2 separate regions of the Homo sapiens genome follow, and region 1 is linked to region 2. Evidence: fine-mapped expression QTL. A gene starts in region 2. The other region holds a variant in brackets. All regions are shown on one strand. Distances are from middle to middle. Region 1 has its middle 64 kb from the start of RNF38. Region 2 holds the start of RNF38 (ring finger protein 38).

The links. PIP is the estimated chance that this variant, and not a neighbour inherited with it, causes the effect.
Region 1: its variant is fine-mapped to the expression of RNF38 in whole blood (TOPMed, PIP above 0.99).

The regions. Positions count from the first base shown.
Region 1 is chr9:36,460,392-36,468,516 of GRCh38, reverse strand. It overlaps a transcript of RNF38 not described here. Among named protein-coding and RNA genes, the nearest start is that of RNF38, 64 kb to the right of the region's middle. The variant C/T (reference allele first, on the strand shown) is at 3,989.
Region 2 is chr9:36,395,771-36,403,895 of GRCh38, reverse strand. RNF38 (ring finger protein 38) reads left to right here and starts at 3,627. Exons shown (of 12, transcript NM_022781.5): 1 at 3,627-3,799. The coding sequence starts at 3,788. LOC124902152 (a long non-coding RNA gene) reads left to right here. Exons shown (of 2, transcript XR_007061475.1): 1 at 1-2,002; 2 at 2,311-2,431. RefSeq lists silencers at 2,568-3,027, 3,058-3,387 and an enhancer at 3,598-3,667.

The DNA of each region.
Region 1 (8,125 bases), 65 kb before region 2:
TTATAAAAAGTTAAAAGAAATCTGGGCTGGATATCTTTTCTTTACCTCTCCAGATCCATCCTCTACTCTTTTCTACCTGGCTCTTTGCCCCAGATAAAGAACTCTTAGGCCCTCTGGATTGAAGGGCCAGAGAAGGAGGTCAGAATATTTATCCCTTCACCTCTCAGGGTAGCATGTATTATATACCTGGATTCTGCGTTCTGGTAATCTCTGTCTCCTATCTTCTTTGGCACTTCTAGAAGCAATACTTGTTCTGCCTTTTTTTTTTTTTTTTTAAGACAGAACATTGCTCTGCCCAGCAGGCTGGAGTACAGTGGTGCGATCATGGCCCACTGCAGCCTTGAGCTTCTGGGCCCAAGCAGTCTTCCCACCTCAGCCTCTTGAGTAGGGACAACAGGCGTGCGCCACCACAACTGGCTAGTTTCTAAACATTTTTTGTAGAGGTGGAATCTTGCTGTGTTTCCTAGACTAGTCTTGAACTCCTGAGCTCACTCAGTCTTCCCACCTTGGCATCCCAAAGTGCTGGGATTACAGGTGTGAGCCACTGTTGCTCAGCCTTGTTCTGCCTTTACTAGTCCTGATTTCTGTTCCATCCCCATGGTTTCTGTAGCCTCTATTCCCCTACTTTGTAATTATTTCTTTTATAAACAAACCCTTCTCAGATTATTCTGATTTGTATTTGCCATCTCTTTACTTTTGGGACCTGACTGATGGACCCTCCATTCTTATTCCTCTCCCCACTATAATCCCAGAGGTGGTAACAGGTACCATTTTGGTGTGTGTCCACAAATTACCTGTGTGAGAGGCGCAGGCATTTGTGTATAGAGATGATGCATGGAAGTGTACATTAATTGTTGAAAAAGCTATAGTGGGTTTTATTATTGCTGCTAATGGTGTTATTATTGGTAGTGATGTTATATCCCAAATGGCCTGACCCACCCAGTTAGTGACTCTTGAAGCAGAGAGCAGCAGAATCATAATCTGACCTCCTTATTGTCATATTGAGGAAACAGGCCCACAGAGGGCTAGGCTCTTCTCTCAGGCCCCATAGCTCAGAGCTGCAGCCTCCTTGCACTGGGCTGTTTTCTCTTGCTGCATAATTACTCTCCTTAATTAGTGATATTCAAAGTATTTTGAATATATACTCTGAAAATCTTGAAAAATTTTAAGTAGACATCTAATTTTTTTCATAATTTTAAATAGTTGGAAAAGATAATTTCACTATTACTGTTACCCATATATGTATGTGTGTGTATATGTGTGTGTGTGTGTATATATATATATTATATATATATATATGTAATAGCAATCAGATTAGTTGCAGTTGTTTTTTTTTTTGAGACGGAGTCTCGCTGTGTCGCCCAGGCTGCAGTGCAATTGTGTGATCTCGGCTCACTGCAACCTCCACCTCCTGGGTTCAAATGATTCTCCTGCCTCAGCCTCCTGAGTAGCAGGGATTACAGGCGCGTGCCACCACGCCTGGCTAATTTTTGTATTTTTAGTAGAGACGGGGTTTCGCCATGTTGACCAGGCTGGTCTCAAACTCCTAACCTTAGGTGAAACTGCCTGCCTCAGCCTCCCAAAGTGCTGTGATTACAGGTGTGAGCCACCGCAACTGGCTGTCTTTATGCCTTTTCAAATTTTTTTATAAGTAGACATTATTGTCTTCTGATTACAAAAATATACATGGCAAAATTTAAAATGTTATAGAAATGTATATTAGAGAAAATAAAAGTTCCTTTATTTGAATCCTGCAGAGGTCAGTGAGGATTGGATATGTGTATATTCATGTAGTGTTGTGTATAAATTTACAAAAAGTGGGACCATAGTATATATATTGTTCTGAAACTTGCTTTTTTCCCACTTTATAATAATGTTGGGTCTCTTTCCAAGTCAGTATTTATAAATTTATTTTTTGAAACATTTGTTTGACATACGAAATACGTATAGAAACATTCATATCTTGTAAGTTTGCAGCTCAATGAATCATCATAGTGTGAACCCACGTGTGTAACTACCAAGCAGGTCAAGAAATAAAATACTAAAACTACGCTTTATGAGCCTCCCATTGTGCCTGCTACCTCATTCTTAACAGCTTTATCGAAATATAAATTTACATATACAATTTACCCAAATAAAGTATACAATTAAGTGGGTTTTGGTGTATTCACAGTTGTGTAACCAGTACCACTATCTAATACCAGAGCATTTTCATCTCCCTGAAAAGAAATCCTCCACTCATTGGCAGTCACTCTCCATTTCCTCCCATCTCAGTCCTAGGCAACAGCTATCTACTTTCTGTCTCTGTAGATTAGCCTGTTCTGGACCTTTTATATAAATGGAATCATACAATTTGCACTTTTATGAACAGTACTGGCTTCTTCCACTTAGAATAGATAGTATTTTCAGGTTCATCTATGTTGTGACATGTATCAGCACTTTGTTACTTTTTTTTACTTTTTCACGAGACAGAGTCTCGCACTGTTGCCCAGGCTCAAGTGCAGTGGCCCGATCTCGGCTCACTGCAAGCTCCGCCTCCTGGGTTCACACCATTCTCCTGCCTCAGCCTCCTGAGTAGCTGGGACTACAGGTGCCTGCCACCATGCCCGGCTAATTTTTTTTGTATTTTTAGTAGAGACGGGGTTTCACCGTGTTAGCCAGGATGGTCCCGATCTCCTGACCTCGTGATCCACCCGCCTCGGCCTCCCAAAGTGCTGGGATTACAGGCGTGAGCCACCGCGCCCGGCCAGCACTTTGTTACTTTTTGTAGGTAAATATTAGTTGTATAGGTGTATCATACTTTACCCATTCATCAGTTAATGCACATATGGATTGCATCCTATTTTGGATGATTATGAATAATGCTGCTATGGGCCGGGTATAGTGGCTGATGCCTGTAATCTCAGCACTTTGGGACGCCAAGGCAGGCGGATCACCTGAGGTCAGGAGTTCGAGACCAGCCTGACCAACATGGAGAAACCCTGTCTCTATAAAAATATAAAATCAGCCAGGCGTGGTGGCGTATGCCTGTAATCCCAGTTAGTCGGGAGGCTAAGGCAGGAGAATCGCTTGAACCTGGGTAGTGGAAGTTGCAGTGAGCCGAGATTGTGCCATTGCACTCCAGCCTGGGCAACAAGAGCGAAACTCCATCTTGAAAGAAAAAAAAGAAAAAAAGAATGCTGCTATGAACACTTGTGTACAAGTTTTTACATGGACATATATTTTTATTTCTCTTGTGTAAACACGAACCCACCCCTATGTAGGAGTAGAATTACTGGGTCAAATGGAACTCTAAGCTTAACCTTTTGAGGAACTGCCGTGCTGTTTTTTAAGGTTGTTACACCATTTTATATTCCCACCAGCAGTGTACGAGGGTTCTAATTTCTCCACATTGTTGCCAACACTTGTTCTCTGTTATCTGTCTTTTTGATTATAGCCCTCCTAGTGGGTGGGAAGTGGTATCTCCTTCTAGTTTTGATTTGCATTCCCCCCATGGCTAATGATGTTAAGTATCTTTTTGTGTTATTGGTCCATGCAGATTTTAAGAAGGCTTTTAAAATTCTCTGTCAGAGGCAGAGCACTAAATAGTATCTTTTTGAGTCCTCATAATTGTAAAACAAGCATTTTAGTACATTTGCTTTCTTTACTTTTTTCTTTGCAAATCTGGAATTTTATGTTATCTTTATATATTACATATTTTTGGAAATGATTTTTAAAAATGTTCCACACAATTATGTAGCCAGATTGATCACAGTTATTTAGATTTATCTGTATTTTAACTTGTTTTGCCATTTCCTTCCATTCTTAGCTATACAGTGTATGTATATTAATTTATTGGGTGAATATTGCAGTTTCCAGGATTTGTGTTTTCACAGTTTGTTTAGGGTTACATGAGTAGATATATATGACTGATAATCTGATACAAATATGATTTTTTTTTTTTTTTGAGACGGAGTCTCACTCTGTCACCCAGGCTGGAGTACAGTGG[C/T]GCGATCTCAGCTTACCACAACCTCCGCCTCCCAGGTTCAAGCAATTCTCCTGCCTCAGCCTCCTGAGTAGCTGGGATTACAGGTGTGCGCCACCACACCTGGCTAATTTTTTTTTGTATTTTTAGTAGTGACAGAGTTTCACCATATTGGCCAGGCTGGTCTCGAACTCCTGACCTTGTGATCCGCCTGCCTTGGCCTCCTAAAGTGCTGGGATTACAGGCGTGAGCCACTGCGCCCGGCCTAAATATGATTTCAAATTATAATTAAGGCTTGCATTTCATCTACATAATGCAGAGCTTTGATCTTGTCAGAAATTAGAAGATAATTTTTTTTGTGTGGTTTTTTGTTTGTTTGTTTGTTTTTTGAGACAGAGTCTTGCTCTGTCGCCCAGGCTGGAGTGCAGTGTCGTGATCTAGGCTCACTGCAATCTCCACCTCCCGGGTTCACGCCATTCTCCTGCCTCAACCTGAGTACCTGGGAGTACAGGTGCCTGCCACCACGCCCGGCTAATTTTTTGTATTTTTAGTAGAGACAGGGTTTCACCATGTTAGCCAGGATGGTCTCTATCTCCTGACCTCGTGATCCGCCCGCCTCGGCCTCCCAAAGTGCTGGGATTACAGGCGTGAGCCACCGCACCTGGCCTAAGATAATAGTTTTTGGTCACTTATTTTTCTGAGGACAAAAGAGTAAGTGTGAGCTAGGGAGTTTGCAGAGAAAAATAGCTTAGTCTCTTCTTGGTGATTAGAGAGATGATTAGGGAAATTAAATAGACAGACTGGAAAGCATGGTTCAATTATTTGGAAGAATTACCTAATCCCAGTGCACCATACATACTTGCCTTTGTTCAAATGTAATATGTACATATCTTTGTATTTGTGTGATTCATCAGTACCATTGCCCCCTTCGTGACCACGTCTTTGCATTATTACAAATGATTTTTTTTTTCTAGTGTACCTTGCTTTACCCAAAAGGTAAACAGTTCATATTGAAAATTGAATGGAAATGCTCTTGAATTTACAAGGAGACACCCAGCAGAATGGCATAATTGTGAGTTTTTCAAGGCCTACGTTTAGATCATTGAAGAACTAGTATTCTATTTCATGGATCCAGAAATGAGACTTTCCTGCATTCCTGTGAGTGATCAGACTCATATTATCTAAATAACAGAAGGCTTGTATCAAACTGAAAGTGCCAGTTTATTACTTCATAATGTGCGGGGCCTTTCTCCTGACTTACATGCAAGAAACAAATGAGTGTCTACTGTGTACCAGGCCTACATACTGGCTACACAGTAGTGAACAAAAGCAGGTAAAACCTCTACTCTTATGAAGCTTACATCCTCATGATGTGAGACAGACAGTAAGCATAAATATGCCATAAGGATGATAAGTGGTAAGAAGAAAAACAGATCAGGGTAGGCCAAGATAAGCAAAGAATGAAAGCAGGTGCTATTTAAATCACTTGACCAGGCTGCTCTGCCTATGGAGTAGCCATTCTTTATTCCTTCACTTGCTTAATAAGCTTGTTTTCACTTAAAAAAAAAAAAAGTAAATCAGGGCGGGGTACAGTGGCTCACACCTGTAATCCCAGCAGGGGAGACTGAGGCAGGCAGATCACCTGAGGTCAGGAGTTGGAGACCAGCCTGGCCAACATGGTGAAACTCCGTGTCTACTAAAAATACAAATATTAGCCAGGTGTGGTGGTGCCCGCCTGTAGTCCTAGCTACTCGGGAGGCTGAGGCACGACAATCACTTAAACCTGGGAGGCGGAAGTTGTGGTGAGCTGAGATCATGCCACTGATCTCCAGCCTGGGCGACAGAGCAGGACTCTGTCTCAAAAAAAAAAAAAAATCAATCAGTTGGTCAGAGAAAGCATCATTGGTGCAGTGACATTTGAGCAGAAATTCGAAGGAAGTTAGGCATCAAGCTGTTTTAAGTGCAGAAGCCCTGACGCAAAAGTGTGCTTGCTGTATTCCATGAACAGGAGTGTTCAGAGGTAAGATGGTGACCTTCTAGACTATTAGGGATACTTTGTTTTTGACCTTTGTTCTGAATGAGATGAGATCACTGAGCAGAGGAGTGGTGATATATGGTATGACTTCCCTTCTAGGATCTTTCTGGCCGCTGTGCTGAGAATGGGTTGTAGGAGGGTAAGGATTGAAGCAGGAAAAGCAGTTGGAGGCTGTTACGGTAGAGCAGGAGAGAGATGAGGTGATTTACCTGCATCTTGGTGATAGTTGGGAAGTTTGCTAAGTTGCATACAGGCTGGTTGGTGTATAGTCAGTCACCCTTCAGCCCTCTTTGACTTAATCCTTTATTCCAGTTCCCTGAAACTGCTCTGCCAAGGTCATCCATAATGGTGGGTTGCCAAACCAGTGGATATTCAGACCACATCTTACTGCATCTCTTACCAGAGTTATCCACGTAATTTATCCTCTTTCTTGGATCCCAGCCTGTTGGCTTCTGTAATCTCATAATCCTTGTTTTCCTCTTACCTTTGCATATACTTTTTGCCAACCTCTTTTCCCGGTCACTGCATGTTTGAGTTCCTCAGGGCTTGGGCCTGTTTCTTCATCTCTCTTCTGTGTTTTCTGGATGATAGCATTTGTTCCCAAGGATTTAAATATCATTTATGTGCTGAGAATCCCCAAATTTGTATTTTATAGGGAGTTCATACTTCACATGTCCAAACTGAAATTATTATCTGCAAAACTATTTCTCCCCTTAGTTTTTTCCATCGGAAATGCTTAAACCAGGAATCTAGGAGTCATTTTTGGCACCTTTGTTTTTCTTACACACCACTCCCCACCACATTCTTGTCCTTTCCAGCACATCTCCAGAATGTATTTTGTATTGTTTCACCTCTTTTCACTGAAGCTATCCCATCTCTCCCCCTGAACTGCCACAGTAGCCTTTCAGCTGGTCTTCACACTTGTCTGGTCTCCAATTTTTTTCTCTGCATAGCAGCCAGAGAAAGCTTTTGAAAGAATGGGTCACATGGTTACTTAAACTATTCAGTGGCATCCCATTGCACTTGAATTTACAGTTTTTCCTGTCTCTTCCAGGCTGTTTTCTCTGCATAGAACACTCTTGTTCTACCCTTTGAGTACTCAGCTCCTTCTCATCCCTGAGCTCTCAGCTTTCTTCTGAGGCCTTCCTTGACTACTCAGTCTAAAGAAGGTTTTACCTCTCTGCTCTGTCATTGTATTCTGGTTTTCTTTTTCCTTTATAGCATACAGCTTACCACTACTCATTCATGGCTTTAACATCCCTGACCCAGAGTTTTTGTTTGTTTGTTTGTTTGTTTTGAGATGGAGTTTTGCTCTTGTTGCCCAGGCTGGAGTGCAGTGCAGTGGTGCAGCCTTGGCTCACCGCAATCTCCGCCTCCCAGGTTCAAGCAATTCTCCTGCCTCAGCCTCCCAAGTAGCTGGGATTACAGGTGTGCACCACCACACCCAGCTAATTATTGTATTTTTTAGTAGATACGGGGTTTCCCCCATGTTGGCCAGGCTGGTCTTGAACTTCTAATCTCAGGTGATCCACCTGCTTTGGCCTCCCAAAGTGTTGGAATTACAGTTGTGAGCCATCGCGACCAGCCTCCTTTTTTTTCTTTCTTTCTTTCTTTTTTTTTTTTTTTTTTTTTGAGAGAGTTTCCCTCTTGTTGCCCAGGCTGGAGTGCAATGGTGCAATCTCGGCTCGCTGCAACCTTCACCTCCTGGGTTCAAGCGATTCTTCTGCCTCAGCCTCCTGAGTAGCTGGGATTACAGGCATGTGCCACCACGCCTGGCTAATTTTGTATTTTTAGTAGAGATGGGGTTTCTCCACGTTGGTCAGGCTGGTCTTGAACTCCGAACCTCAGCTGATCTGCCTGCCTTGGCCTCCCAAAGTGCTGGGATTATGGGAGTGAGCCACCGCGCCTGGCTCCTTTTTTTCTTTATATGTGTGAATGTCACTGATTAAGCTAGTTGCTGCTTCCAGTCCATTAAGTGTTCTGGGACTAGGAAAAGTCTGTTTCCCACCACTGTGCATTGATTTACCTTACTTTCTGGATCAACCCTGTTCTTGGTGATGGGGTCGGGGCAGGCACTTGCACACACACACTTAATGTTACCTCCATTTACTCCAGTATGTATATGT
Region 2 (8,125 bases):
GAGAAAAACATGATGGTATAAAAGAGAATTTGTAGAGTCACATTCTTTAAAAGGTGAAAAGTGGGTGAGATTTAGCATTGAAGAATAGGCTGAATTTGTTCACTAGGTGATCAGTTCTAAAATCCTATGCAGTTTTTGTATAGTGGCTGCTGTTATTCCCATGTATTAGAATGGCAGAACACCAGAGTAAACAATCTCATTGAATAACTACCAGAACCATCTGAAGGAACTTCAGCATTTTCCTGTTCAGTAAGCAATGTTTTGATATATTTTTATTTTAAAATTGAAGGGACTCAAATGACTTGGGTAGCTCTGGAATAACAGTAGTCATTCACAATTTTCACTTGTCAAGAAAACCAGTTTTTTAAAGGGAGCCTCAGAGTCAGAATTCTCAAAAAGCTCTTGCCAAAAGCACCTTTTCTTACAAATGCTGTACTGTCCCGTAGCCCTGTGTGGCTTTAAAAACTGATCCTGGACAATTCATTAATTGGACTAGCCACATTTCAAGTGCTCAGTAGCTACATGTCACTAGCTAGTGGCAGCCTTTTCGATGGGGCAGATGTAGAATATTTTTGTCATTGCAGAAAGTTCTATTAGTTCTGCAGTGGGACTTTCCACCTTTGTGGACAGACACCAAATAAAATTTTAGCTTGACTGTAGTTAAGTGACTGCTCTGGTATAACTTTAGCCCCTGCCACATTAGGTGTCAAAGGTGGCCCACCACTTTAAAAGCCTGCCTGCTCTTTGGGTGTTTACTTGCATGGCTTAAGATTTTCTGGTTAAGAAATAAATTAGAGGCTGTGCATGGTAGTTCACACCTGTAATCCCAGCATTCTGGGAGGCCAATATGGGAGGACTGCTTGAGCCCAGGAGTTAGAGACCAGCCTGGGCAACATAGTGAGACCTGCCTCTACAGAAAATTAAAAATTTAGCCTGGATTGCCTGAGCCCAGGAGTTTGAGACTGCAGTGAGATGTGATCCAGCCATTGCACTCCAGCCTGGGCGACAGAGCACCGTGTCTCAAAATACAAAAAAAATAAAAAAAGAAGAAGAAATTTAAAACTATCCAACCTGGGGTTGTGACAGCATTGTTGAAGATCGTAACCATTTGAGAGGTTTCAGGAAGCTTGCCTCACAAAAGGTTGGCTGAAGCTCAGAGGGATTTGCTGAAGCTTAGAGGTGAGGAATGCTGGAGGACTGTAATAGATTTTTGCTGCTGAGTTCAGCACTTGAGGAATCTGCCTCTCTTACAGTTAGATAGCTCCCAAATGTAACTTCCCTTTCCTTTCCTGATGTTCTTCTCCCCTTTCCCCTCTCTTCACATAGTCCTATCCAAGCTTGGAGGAAAAGCTACTTCAGGGTGGTCTGCGTTCTGTAGGGAGGATTTTTTTTTTTTTTTTTAAGCTTAGATTCTGGTGGAAGATCTGTAATTGGAAGGCGAATCCACAGTAGATTGCGATTTGTGAGGGATACAGAGGATAGAAAATAGGATACATTGGATAAACTTAAAGGTATGGTTGGCACTTTACCTTGAAGTGAAACAAACAAACAAAAAAAACAAGTTTAGATGTGATCATCTCCAAACTGGCTGCTTTGGGAGAGAGCCAGCCAGCTGGTTAACTGGGTTACATAATTCGAGTATGGGTTTGGGGTGGATATGTTCATAGGGACCTAATACCTCTTTCCAGCTTCTCTTTGTTTGTCCTGGAATTCCAAAACCTATGATGTTATTGCTGGAACTTTGATTCAGCAGTTGCTAAACACCTTCTCTTGTGTTTCTGGCACTAGACTTGGGCCTTGGGTTTAGTTTACACAGTCCCAACAGAGTCTGGGTGCTCAGTCTGATATGGGAGACAAGTGTACATAAATAATTACCATATAGTGTTGTTCATAAAGAGAATGTCCAAGGTCCAGAAGGTCCTGAAACAACATTTACTCTGATTTCCCCCATTTTCTACTGGTTGCAGCTGAGGCCCAGAGAGGGAAAGAGAGACTGGTTTAAGTAATGCCAAAAGAACTAGAACTTGAAAACCCGAGTTTTCTGTTGACTGGTCCTTAATAATTTTACTCTACCACCCTAAAATATGATCACCATCCTTGCGGGAAACATCTAATTTCTGCTTTAAAAAGTCCACCCCTTCCATGATGTCCTCTTGACTGCCCTCTCTCCTTAAGTCTGATACCACTTTACTATTTTTTCCTTGTATGGATTGTGCTTTTGTGGAAATTTTTATTTTCTCTCTTGTATCGTGATTATCAGGACAGGAGCCAAGCCGGCTTCAATCTTTGTTCTTATTTCCCCTCCCCAAGCGACATCTGAGCAACTGTCACACTTAAGGAAGCCTCGGACAAGTTGGGTTCGAACCTGTTGGCTTGCTGCATTGAGAGACACCTTTGTGTACTGCAATAAAAATTCTTACTTTTCGGGCCACGTGAATGCATTTATGCTGTAAGAACTACGTGAGGTCAGTTACTGTTTGATTGCGGAGTTTTGTAGGTAGGAGGCACGGAACAGTAGCAACAATTTACTAAGAGAAAATCTATAGGAATTGGAACAGGGCCCTGCGGTCCGCAGGGCAGCGGGGGGCGGGCTGGGGCGGGGCTGCGCAGTGGTGCTGCGCGCGGAGCTCTGTTGCCGGAACTGGTCCGAGTCGTGCGCCGGGCCGCGCGCAGCCCCGCCCCGCCCCGCCCCGCCCCCTTCCCCCTCGGGGTGGAAACAAAGGGGGTTCGGCGCGCGGTGCGGAGCCTGGGGGAAAAGGGAGGAGCGCTCCGGTGGTCTGGCGCGCTGGGCTCGCTAGGTTTGTGCTGGCGAGGGGACGGGGTGGGACGGGCGACCCGGACCCAAGAAGTGGGAGGACCGCGCGTGTCGCGGCCTAGCGGCGAGGGGAGTCGCCTGCGCGCGCAGCGGAGGCCAGTGCGCCGGCGCATAGGGAGCCCGGGTCTGTGATCGCCGAGGCGGGGTGAGGCGGGGTGCGGCGGGGCGCGGCGGGGCGGGGAGGGGCGTGGCCGGGCCGGGCCCCTAGTGCGGTGTTGCGGGACGGGGCCGAGGCCCGGTCGGTTGGGGCGTGGGGGCGGAGAGGATGGAGCCTCCGAGGCGTTAGGCGACTCTGTCATCTCTGGGCGTGCAGCCGTCGTTTCCTGGCGCGGCCCGTGTGATGGTGCCGGGAGGAAGGAAGCGCAGTGACAGTGCCTAAGTTGGAGCCGGGGTTCCGGGGGTGAGGAGGCCCGCGGACGGCGGATCTGGCGAGCTGGCCGCGGGCTGGGCGAGCAGTCACAATAGGAGGCGGCGGCCCAGCGAGGATCCGCGGGAGCTGCCCGGCAGGGCGGAGCCTCCCCTCGCAGGTACTGGCCGCCGCGGCCGTTGGCTGCAGCGCGAGGGCGGGACGGGCTGCGGGCCGTTGAGAGCCTGCGGGGCCGCGCCCGAGTCTTGGGCTAAGGTTTGCCTCGGCCGCCCGGCGCTCTTTGTTCCCGCGGTGGCGAGGAGGCGCGGTCTCAGCTCGCGGAGCCGCCGGCCCGCTGCCCGGCAGATGGCCTCGCTCTCTCGCTCCCTCCCTTTTTGCCGAGACGCAGGTGAAATGATGTCACCCAGGAGAACGCGGAACCCGGTCGAAAGGGTCCTCTCTGGCGTCCTTCTGCTTCCGTGGGTTTCTGGATAGGCTGCGTTTTGTTCTCAGGGGATGCAAGTTCTTCCTTTCAGGGTTGAAGCGTGAGAGAGGTTGGTTTTTGAAACGGGAGTGTTTCAGGTTATTGAGGTCCAAAAAGAAATAAAGTTTTTGTTTACGTCTGTATGGCTTGTAAGGTAAAGTATTTTTCTTTGTGTTGCAAAAATGATATATGCTATTATTCAGTAAAAGTTGGGTATGCTAATTCTACCGTAAGTAGAAACACACACATGTAATTATTGCCACCATTATATGAATTGCCATTTCTTTTTTCTTAAGCGGTGGACTTAACGTATGAAAACTTAAATGTATACAAAGCTCATAATACAGTTGTTACCTTAGAGTTGCAAGTCTGCTGTATTCTGTTTGGCCTTGATTGCGAGTGTTGTTATACTTGAAAATTTACCGTAAATTTTTTTCAATAGCAAACAAACCTTGTATGTAGGCTTTAAAAAAAATTCCCTTTTATAGGGACAGTTGGAATCGAAGTAAAATTGTTCCTATCTTCAGGGAACACCGTCTAATGGAAGAAATAGAACTTTTGTAGAGATAATACGAAACCACATACATATAGATGTCAGATCAGGTGTGGGAAGCTGGGACACACTTGGAATAAAAAGATGAAATTTCTGACTGGAAGTTTACCTGGGAATTGTGTCACTTCAGATACTCCTTTCTCTGGGGTTTATAAATATATATTTATAATATATTTATTTATAATATGGTATTATATAATATATTATATATATTTATAATATGGTATATTTCACCTTTTGCAAACCTGCTAATCATACATTGTTCATTCAATTTTAAGTTGATTTTTATGATATTTCTGTAAGACTTATTTCTAAGAGATTTGAAGGCCTTAGCGCCTATAGTTGAATAAGTTCTGCCACAGACTCGTCATGTGGGCCTCAGGCTCTCATCTGTAAAATATAAAAAAAGTTGGACTTAAATAATCTGTGGGTTTTCCACCTCTGACTTCGTCTGTGATTCTAGAAGGTAGTTCGTATTTCCATACTTGTTGGGCTTTATATGCCCATCTTGTTTTTATAGTTAAATTGTCAAGTATTACTCTGGGTGAATATTGAGGAGAATTTTCTCTACTAAAATAACCTAATTTTTGATGAAGAGTAAACAAGATGGCATAGTCAGACATAACTGACTGTTAGCATCATAATGTAGAGTGTAGATCTGTTGTCTCTCTGCCAACAGCATTGGATGAGGCTTTTAATTCATGTTACATTCCTAGGCTGTTTCTGTTTGTGCTCACTTTCTTTTTTTGAGGCTGTGAGTGGAAAGTGTGGGTGAGAAATTCTTATGATAAAAGTTTCTGAAATGATTAGGTACTTGCTCAGTATGGAAAGATTATTGGTCAAGATTATGTCTTCTAGTTTATTCCACCTATTTCTCTGTACTACCTCTAGTTTGGTTTAGGCCACCACCATTTTGTAATTCATCTTGCTGGAAAGGTAGTTCTTAATTAGTCTTGATTGTTGCGTTGTGTTTGTTTTGGTTTTCCTGCTAAGAAAACATGTCAGACAGTTTTCACTTCCATTTTACTCTACTTAACTCACAGCCTTTTCTCTGGAAAGAGCGAACAGATTGTAAACATGGATTTGAACAGTATAGTTCTTGTCTAGTTCATCAGCAAACGTTAATTAATACGACGTTATCTAGAGGAGATAAAGCATTAATACTTGAACTCTATATAGTAAATTAATGAGAGAAATTTAGAATAAACAGATGAAGAAGAGGGGTCATGTACACAGTCTCTTCCCAACTCTTACATCTTTCATTAAAAAAATTTTTTTTTAATTTTAGTTTTTCCAGAAACGGGTTTTGCTATGTTGTCCCTTCTGGACTCGAACTTCTGGGCCCAGGTGATCCTCCTTTCTTGGCCTCCTGAGTAACTAGGACTACAGGTGTTTGCCATGGAGCCTGCCTGCCTTAGATCTTTCCCTTTGTTAAGGATCTGAACTTTTCACCTCTTCTATCTAGGTTATGGAGCCCTATTATCTTCTTGTAGTTCCTGTTATTAATTGTCCCTCACTAGACTGAGTTGCTTTAAGGGTAAGGACTGTTTCTTTTTCCCATTTTGTAGTCACAGCATCCAGCATATGGCAGGCAAGCAATAATTATTTGAATTATGATTGTTATTTAATAAAATTATAACTCAATCATACCTCTTTTTTCCAACTATTGTAAAACCCACAATTATTGTGTAAGTAATTATATGTGTGTGCGCCGTGTGTGTGTTTGGAGAGAGGGAGAGGGAGAGAGTGTATAAAATTTTTTATTGGTTTGGACTTTTGTGGTCTAGATATTTTTTCACATCTGTGTAATTCTTTGTGGTAACCAACCTAAGTAAAACGATTTTAGACATACTTCTTTGAGGGGAGAAAAATCTTTGTGTAGGCAAATTTAGATTTTGGAAGGGAAGGAAAGAAAAGTTTATTTAAAATATGTAACTCTTATTTTTCCTACCCTTTATTTCTGCATTCTCTGTGTAATGGATAGAGGATTTCTTTCGTTGCATCTGTTTTCTTTTCCCTTTTCCTTCTTTTTCATCACCTTATGGGATTGTGGACTGGGGAAAGGAAGTAGGGGAGCCTTAGGCTGTTTTCACACACCCTATTTCTGCTGTGCTCTCAGAAAGAGATGGGTCCTGTTTGTTTGCCTAACTCAAGAGTGGGAACCATAATTTCTGTTTAGAAATGATTGTCCGGTGCTGGGCAGTAATGAACATCCTCACCCACATAGTACCAGTCCTTGAATGGTTTCTCCTAATACTGCCTATTAGCTTTTCAAAATTATTTTTAAATTATTTTTTAGCTCACGCCTGTAATCCCAGCACTTTGGGAGGCCGAGGTTGGTGGATCACCTGAGGTCAGGAGTTTGAAACCAGCCTGAATAATATGATGAAATCCTGTCTCTACTAAAAATAAAAAAATTAGTCGGGTGTGGTGACCAGCACCTGTAATCCGCTACTCTGGAGGCTGAAGCAGGAGAATTGCTTGAACCCAGGAGGTGAAGACTGCAGTGAGTCAGGATTGTGCGAGTCAGGATTGCGCCACTGCACTCCACCCTGGGCAACAAGAGCAAAGCTCTGTCTCAAAAAAAAAAAAACAAAACATATATATATATATATACACACACACATATATATACGTATATATACATGTGTATATACGTATATACGTATATACACACACACACACATATATAAAGCAAATTGTGACCGTTGTGTAGTGAGAGAATGATTTTTTTTTTATTCCTTTCAGTCTTTTTCATGTGTCATTTGTGTATGAGAACTGTTGAAGCTTAGAGATGAATGACTTAGAAATTTTGTCTTGGATCTCAAAGGGTAGTAACATCTCAGAGGGTCAGTTCTACCCAGTGTTTGGACCTCAGTTTTCCAGAACCAGGCTCTCGATTTTTTTTTTTAAAGAAGCTTTATTAAGTTATGTTTTATATACCATAAAATTCACTCCATTCAATTAGATTTTTTTGGTTACATTTTGAACATTTCTGTCATCCCCCAAAGATCCCTGTGCCCATCCAGGCCTGCCTTTTGCATAACTCTAAGCGTGCACAGTCCCATTCCTGTTTGCAGTGTTCTCTCCTGGACCAGCTTTGAAGAATGCCATCCGGGACTTTGAGTACCCCTGCTCCACACTGTCAAAATCCTTTCAGAGAACTCTGCTCCCAGAAAACAAAAGCCAAGGAAACAGATTTGTTTTAGGCCCAGTGATAGAACTCTTCTCAAAGGAAAGGTGACATTTAGGTCTAGTTTATTCTCAGAACAGGGAAAAAAAAAAATCCTAGCAAGGAGCACAGCATGCATCAGTAGCTCAATGATTTATTCTGCCTCAGTAGGATGGGGTGGACTTACTGGGCAACCACTGACTTCATTTAATGGTAACCTGCAGGTGAGTGCATCAGATCTCTTCCTTGATCAAAGCTTTTAGCTTGTCTCATTGCCAACCAGATTTCTAAGAAACTTGTTACACAAATCAGAAAGGCAGGCTGTTACATCATTTGCTTACAGTTTGGAAGATTATTCTTTTAATAAATAGTTGAATGCCTGCTATGTGCCATGTACTCTTCTAGGTGTTAGTGACATTGTGCTGAACAGGACATGGAGCTTATACATGTTCTCCTGAGTGTATGCTCAAGTCACCTCATTGATTTGGCTGCTCTATTTAATCTTTATAGGGAGTTCTCTGTTTTTCTTCCTAATATTCCAAGATAACTTTTTTCTTGAATTTATGAAGTCCTGTTCATATATAACCCTACCTTATGATCATAGCATTTAAATAATTTTCTCCTCCCCCAAGTAGTAGTGTTTCTGGTTGCTACTTTTTAATGGCTGCATAGTTCAAGCAAGTGTACCGTAATTTTACTTAGCAAGTATTTGTTAAACATTTAGGTTGCTTCTAGTTACCTTTTAAATTGTCGCT